2 separate regions of the Homo sapiens genome follow, and region 1 is linked to region 2. Evidence: fine-mapped expression QTL. A gene starts in region 2. The other region holds a variant in brackets. All regions are shown on one strand. Distances are between the middles of the regions.

Region 1 (2,924 bases), 64 kb before region 2:
CATGTGTAAGTAAGAAAATGTAAATAAAATGTGAATATTTATTTTCTCCATTATTTAGCTCTTAATTCTACTAATATTTAGTAAAAACATTATTTACTTGTATAATCTCCAAATCAGACACCTGAAAAATGAATTTGCTTTTTCTTCTTAAACCACTATAGTTTGGAAAAATAGGATATCTTTTGGGCTTATTTTACATTTTACTTCTAAATCTTAACTTAAGCCTGGAATATTTTATGCATGGAATAAACAATTATGGTCAGAAATATTTCATAATAACTGAGGGCTGGAACAGAGTCATTCCAGGGTGGGACTAGAATGTGCATTTTATAGTGTATTATGAGGTTGAGAGTTCAGGGACAGGGACATGCATGGATTGGAGCAGATCAAATTATTGGCAATCACTAGAAAATAACGCACAGTAAAGTCTGAGGGCAGGAAATAGCAGCAGAAATGAATCTGTTCCCAGGAGAACAGGACCAGTGTTATAGGCACAGTTGCAGATATTTTCTGAAGTCTGAATACATTGAATGAAGTAGTGCTGGAAATGAATGTTGATAGGTCTATCATGATTTGATAGGCACAGGAAATCTTGCAAATTCAAACTTATGAAGATATACATCTACTTTTGCTGAGAGTTTTATACATGGTGCTTTTATATTTAGCTCTTTATTCTATTTTGAGTTAATTTTTATATATGGTTTGAGGACCTAATTTATTCTTTTGCATGTGGATATTTAGTTGCCCAACACCATTTGCTGAAAGACTACTCCTTCTCTGTTGAATGGCAATGGTACCCTTGTCCAAAATCAGTTGATCTTATTGTATGGCCTTATTTCTGGACTTTCAATACTATTCCTTTTGTCTATAAGTCAATTCTTCTGCCAATACCACACTCTCTTTATTACTGTGGTTTTGTAGTAGCTTCTTAAATTGTGACATGTGAGTCTCTCAACTTCATTCTTCTTTTCTAATATTGTTTTAGCTGTTTGGAGCCCCTTGCATTTTCATATGAATTTTAAGATTAACTTCTCTATTTACCAAAAATGGCAGTTAGAATTTTGATAAAGATTGCATTGAATCTGTAGCTCAATCTGGGAGATATTGCCTTCTTAACAATATTCAATCTTTCAATCAATAAACACAAAATGCTTTCCATTTATTTAGATCTTTGAAAATTTATTTGAATAATACTTTATAGTTGTCAGTGTAAAAAGCTTATACTTTTTTGGTTGATGGTAGAATTATTTTATTAATTTCATTTTCAGATTGTTTATTGCTAGAGTATAGAAATTCAATTGCCTTTTGTCTATTGATTTTGTATCCTGCAAATTTGCTGGACTTGTTTATTAGTTCGTGTGTGTGTGTATATATGTGTATTTTTATAGGTTTTTTATATATAATATCATGTCATCTTCATGTAAAAATAATTTCACATTTTTTCCAATATGGATGCCTTTAATTTCTTTTTCTTGTAAAATTTCCCAACTAGAACTTTCAGTACAATGTTGAATAGAAGTGGCGAGAATGGGCATCCTTGTCTTGTCCTTCAACTTAGGGGGAAAGATTTCA[G/T]TTTTTCACTATTAAGTTAGTTGTGGGTATTTTTTAAAAAAATAAATGCTCTTTAACGGATTGTGGGAGCTCTCTTCTATTCTTATTTTGTTGTGTGTCCTTGTCATGAAAGGTTGTCAGATTATGTCAAATGTTTTTTCTGTGTCTATTGAGATAATCATGTAATTTTTCCCTTTTATTCCATTAACATGGTATACTACATAGACTGATTTTCATATATTGAGCTAACTTTGTCTTCCTGGGATAATTCAAACTAGGTCATAATGTATCATATTTTTATTTGTTGCTGGATTTGGTTTGCCAGTATTTTGTTGAGAATTTTTGTATCTATATTTCTAAGGGATTTTAATCTGTAGTGATCTTTTCTTATAATATCTTTCGCCTTGGAATTAGGGTCATACTGTCCTCATAATATTCCTATAAAAGTGCTCCTCATCTATTTATCTAATAGAGTTTTTGAAGGATTGGTATTAATTTTTATTTAAACATTTGATAAAATTTATCATTGAAGCTATCTGGTCCTGTACTTTTCTTTGTGGGATTTTTCTTGTTGTTATTACTAGCTATTAAAGAAAAAAAAAATGTACCGGACAAGATGAGCAGACAGACAACAGTTGTTTTTATTCTGATACTAGTGCCAGCATAGAGCAGAGGTCACACAACACATCTGGATACCTGGTTCCTTCAAGACAAAGTGCTGGAAATGTTTTAAGTGCTGGAGAAGGTCAGGGAGATTATAGGCCATCAGTGTTTGCGAATTGGTTTTTCCCAGAGAAAAAGTAAACCTTCTCCTGTCTTTATAACAGAAAGTAGCTTCACAATTTGGAGCAAGGTATCCTACCTACTTCTACCCTCCCCCAGAAACTGGGAGATAGGAACACTTTTTTATTGGATGATTACATTTCAGAGAGATGGTTCCCAGGTCCTTGAGAAAGATATTCCTGAAATGTAAAACTGGCAAGAGGTTGGAAAAAAAATTACGTCTTCAAAGAGCAGATAAATAATTTATAATTACAAGTTTTCTGAATAAAATTTCTAAGAAAAGGAACTTCAGGGGCATATAATGAGAAAGAAGTTTATTTGCAGTTTATTTAAAGTTTAGTGAAGCTGAGGGTAATGTTAAGGCCAACTTGATCATCATTCCAACTCTTTGTTACGAGTCTATTCAGATTTTCTGTTTTCTTTTTTCTTTTTTCTTTTCTTTTGAGACGGAGTCTCGCTCTATCGCCCCAGGCTGGAGTGCAGTGGCGCGACCTCTGCTCGCGCAAGCTCTGCCTCCCGGGTTCACGACATTCTCCTGCCTCAGCCTCCCGAGTAGCTGGGACTACAGGCGCCCACCACCATGCCCGGCT
Region 2 (2,924 bases):
AGCCCGTTTGAAATGGTCTCTTGAGCCCAGTGCGCCTGGCCTGTTCCCGCTTAGCCTCACTTAAATCTCCTCGCGAATCTGAGCTGGCCAACTTCCTCTGGGGGAAACTGCTAAACTCAGCTCCAGTTAATATTGTAGGGCTGAGGATAAAATAGCAACGGTTTTGAATAGATGTTGACTTTTCCGACCCAGAGGAGCGGAACTCAGGGATTGTTTGCAAAAGCTAATCGTTTCCACAGTGAAGCAGGGAGAGCCTGGTGCGCTCACCGCCGCCAGCCCCTCCCTGGAAGCCAAGCTGCGGGAAGACTCTGGGACTCAGTTGCCCCTCCCCATCTCTGGCCTTTAAAAGAGTCCTCCCGAGAACTTGGACCAGTGGCCGCCAAACCAGGGCTGCTTCCCAGACTCCTGTCTCCAATCTTGGAGTCTGCGACCTCAGGTTCGGCGCCCACTAGATCTCGAATCCAACTTCTTTCTGAAATGTGTTTAGGTTGAGAGTTCCGGGGCCTGGGCGGGAGTTTGGTGGGGAGAGGGGAGTCTGCTATTTAAGGCGCCATACATACACAGAGACAGCCCGCCCGACCTCCTAACACTCAGGAAAAGTCAATTTCCAAGCATCTGTTCTCAATAATGGTGGCAGGGAGCAGGGCACTGTGACTCCCAGCATCTGAGGGAATACCCGCAGCAGCGCTACCAGAGCGCATTTGCTCTATGCGCTGGAGGTCGGGGTGGGAGGGTGCGCAGATCAAGATCTTTTTTTGCGAACCTCAGGGAAATGACCGTAGTTGGACTAAGAGGTCCACTTTGGAGACTACCAGCAGCCCTCCAAGCCCTGGCAGTGGAGAAGTTTCGTTGCTATGGTTTCGGAGAGGCATAAAAGCCATCACCCAGAAGCAAATGTGTTTGGGCTCCTTATATGTGTTGTCACCACCCAAGGCTAGGCAAATTCCTCGGCGCTTTGCATGCATCACTCACTCCCTGACAGAGCATCTTGGCCTTAGTCTCCCCATCCCAGGAGGCGGGTGTGCGCTAAGGGAGCGAAGTCCAGCCGGAGGCTTCGTAACATCCAAGTCTAGGGACACCAGGAATTCTCTCGCTCTAGCTCCTGTGGTCCAGGGGTGGGAGATGCCCCCGAGTGGCCGCGGCGGCCAGGAGCGTGCAGGGGCCACGGGGAAAGGAGCGCGGCGCCTTTAAAGCAAGAGGCGAGGAACCCCCGCCAGGAGGCGTGTCTGTCTCTGCCGCCGCCGCCGCCGCTGCTGCTCCTCGGTCACCGTCTTCGCCGCTGCCGTCACTCGCGCTCGGCGCCGGCGGCTGCGCTGGTCGGTCTGGTAGCTGGGGACTTTTCCGCCCGACCTCCTCCGGCTGCTCCTCCCCGAGGACCACCCCACCCCCTCCCCGCCCACCTCACCCCTAGCTCCAGGTAAGGACTCCCCGGCTGTGGGCTGCACTCCGGGCTCCTTCACGAGGTGTTTGTTTTCAAGAGGACGGGAGGGACTGCGGGTGGGCGAGGGGCATTTTCCACCTGGAGAGAAGGAAGAAGGCGAACAGTAGCGCTGCGGACGTCCGTGCGCTCGGGGCGCCCGCTGGACGGATTCACTGCGAGTCTTTGTCGGGCTTATCTCAGCCAATTCCCGTCAAGCATGCAAGTGGCTCTGTTGGCTGCAGTCGCCTATGTTCTCCACATAAAATGATTTAAGAAGTGGACGTGTCAGGAAGTGGCCTCAGCTACGGGGACTCACGCGAGGCGAAGAGAATGAGACAGATGGCAAGAAGCTGTGTGGCTGCCGGCGGGTCTGACGAACTCCCCATCCCTCCTTCTGCCCACCCATCCTTCCATTAACCCTACTCCTTAGTTCTGCGCTGAGGAAGTATATTTATTTTAACCGGCACCCGTATTAAGAGCTTCTGAAAAAACTTGGAGGGCGTCCCATTAGGGTAAGGAGTGGGCAGTGTTACCAGGGTGGATCATAAACCTCAAGAACTTTTAACGAACCACATCCTCTGATATTTTTACCTTTAAGGAGATAGAGTTTCTTTACCAAACAACACGACCGAGCTGAGGCTCCTTAGAGAATAATTTCCAATTTAGGCAATGGGGAATATTAGAAAACTTACTATTAGTAGCCTTTTGGTAATGCACAGATTATCTTCTATCGTTTATTCATCTCCATACTGTAAGTATTCTGTCATCAGAAATTATCTTATGGATTGATGATTATTTTCATTTCACGAGAGATGATTGGTTCATTTGAGTCTTAATTAGTCAGTTTAGTTACTGAAATAAATGCAATTGTATTTCAATCTTGATTTGTCTTAGTTCATTACTTTCTAACTTTATAGAGTCTATTCCTGTAACCACCAAGGCAGCCTATCAACTTCCAGTGGCCTTAAAAACTTTTGAGTCAAACAAACAACAAAAAATTGAAATGCACAAGAGCAAGGTGATAGAGAATTGAGCAATGTTTGGAAGTCTTATCTGTTTGTTTTCTCCTATTTAAACCCATTGAAAATCACACAGGCTGAAATTTAAAAAAAAAAGTTCTGGGATATGTAAATTTATTCCACTTCAATTTGTTAATTAAGATACACTTATTTTAGTGTCTAAAAATTAATCAAAACTCTAAATGTCATTAATCATCAATGCAGCAGAATGTTGCTGGAACAGCTGATAATGTGTTCAGAATCATAAGGGATACCACAGCATGCATAGTTAAGAAGAGTGAGTTGCAAGTATGCAACAGTGTGATTTCAACTGAAACCTGACTCAGTCCTGACTTTATTCTCTGAGATCTTTAATGCCATGTATAAACAGGCTGTTTGTTTTAGCTAAATTGCTATGCAACAGGCCACTTGCATGGAATAATAGGTTAGGTGTTACTATAAGATGAGGTTTTTCAAATGTCACATAACAGCAGGACTTCCGTGAC

Direction of the effects. Positions count from the first base shown, and alleles are read on the strand shown. Sizes are in standard deviations (SD) of each study's normalised expression.
As copies of G replace T in region 1, the expression in skin of the gene that starts at base 1,288 in region 2 goes down (large effect, 1.5 SD a copy in TwinsUK).

What was found. PIP is the estimated chance that this variant, and not a neighbour inherited with it, causes the effect.
Region 1: its variant is the best candidate, but not a certain one, in a credible set for the expression of GRIK2 in skin (TwinsUK, PIP 0.72).

What each region holds. Positions count from the first base shown.
Region 1 is chr6:101,328,313-101,331,236 of GRCh38, forward strand. No RefSeq gene overlaps it. Among named protein-coding and RNA genes, the nearest start is that of GRIK2, 64 kb to the right of the region's middle. The variant G/T (reference allele first, on the strand shown) is at 1,573.
Region 2 is chr6:101,392,421-101,395,344 of GRCh38, forward strand. GRIK2 (glutamate ionotropic receptor kainate type subunit 2) reads left to right here and starts at 1,288. Exons shown (of 17, transcript NM_021956.5): 1 at 1,288-1,417.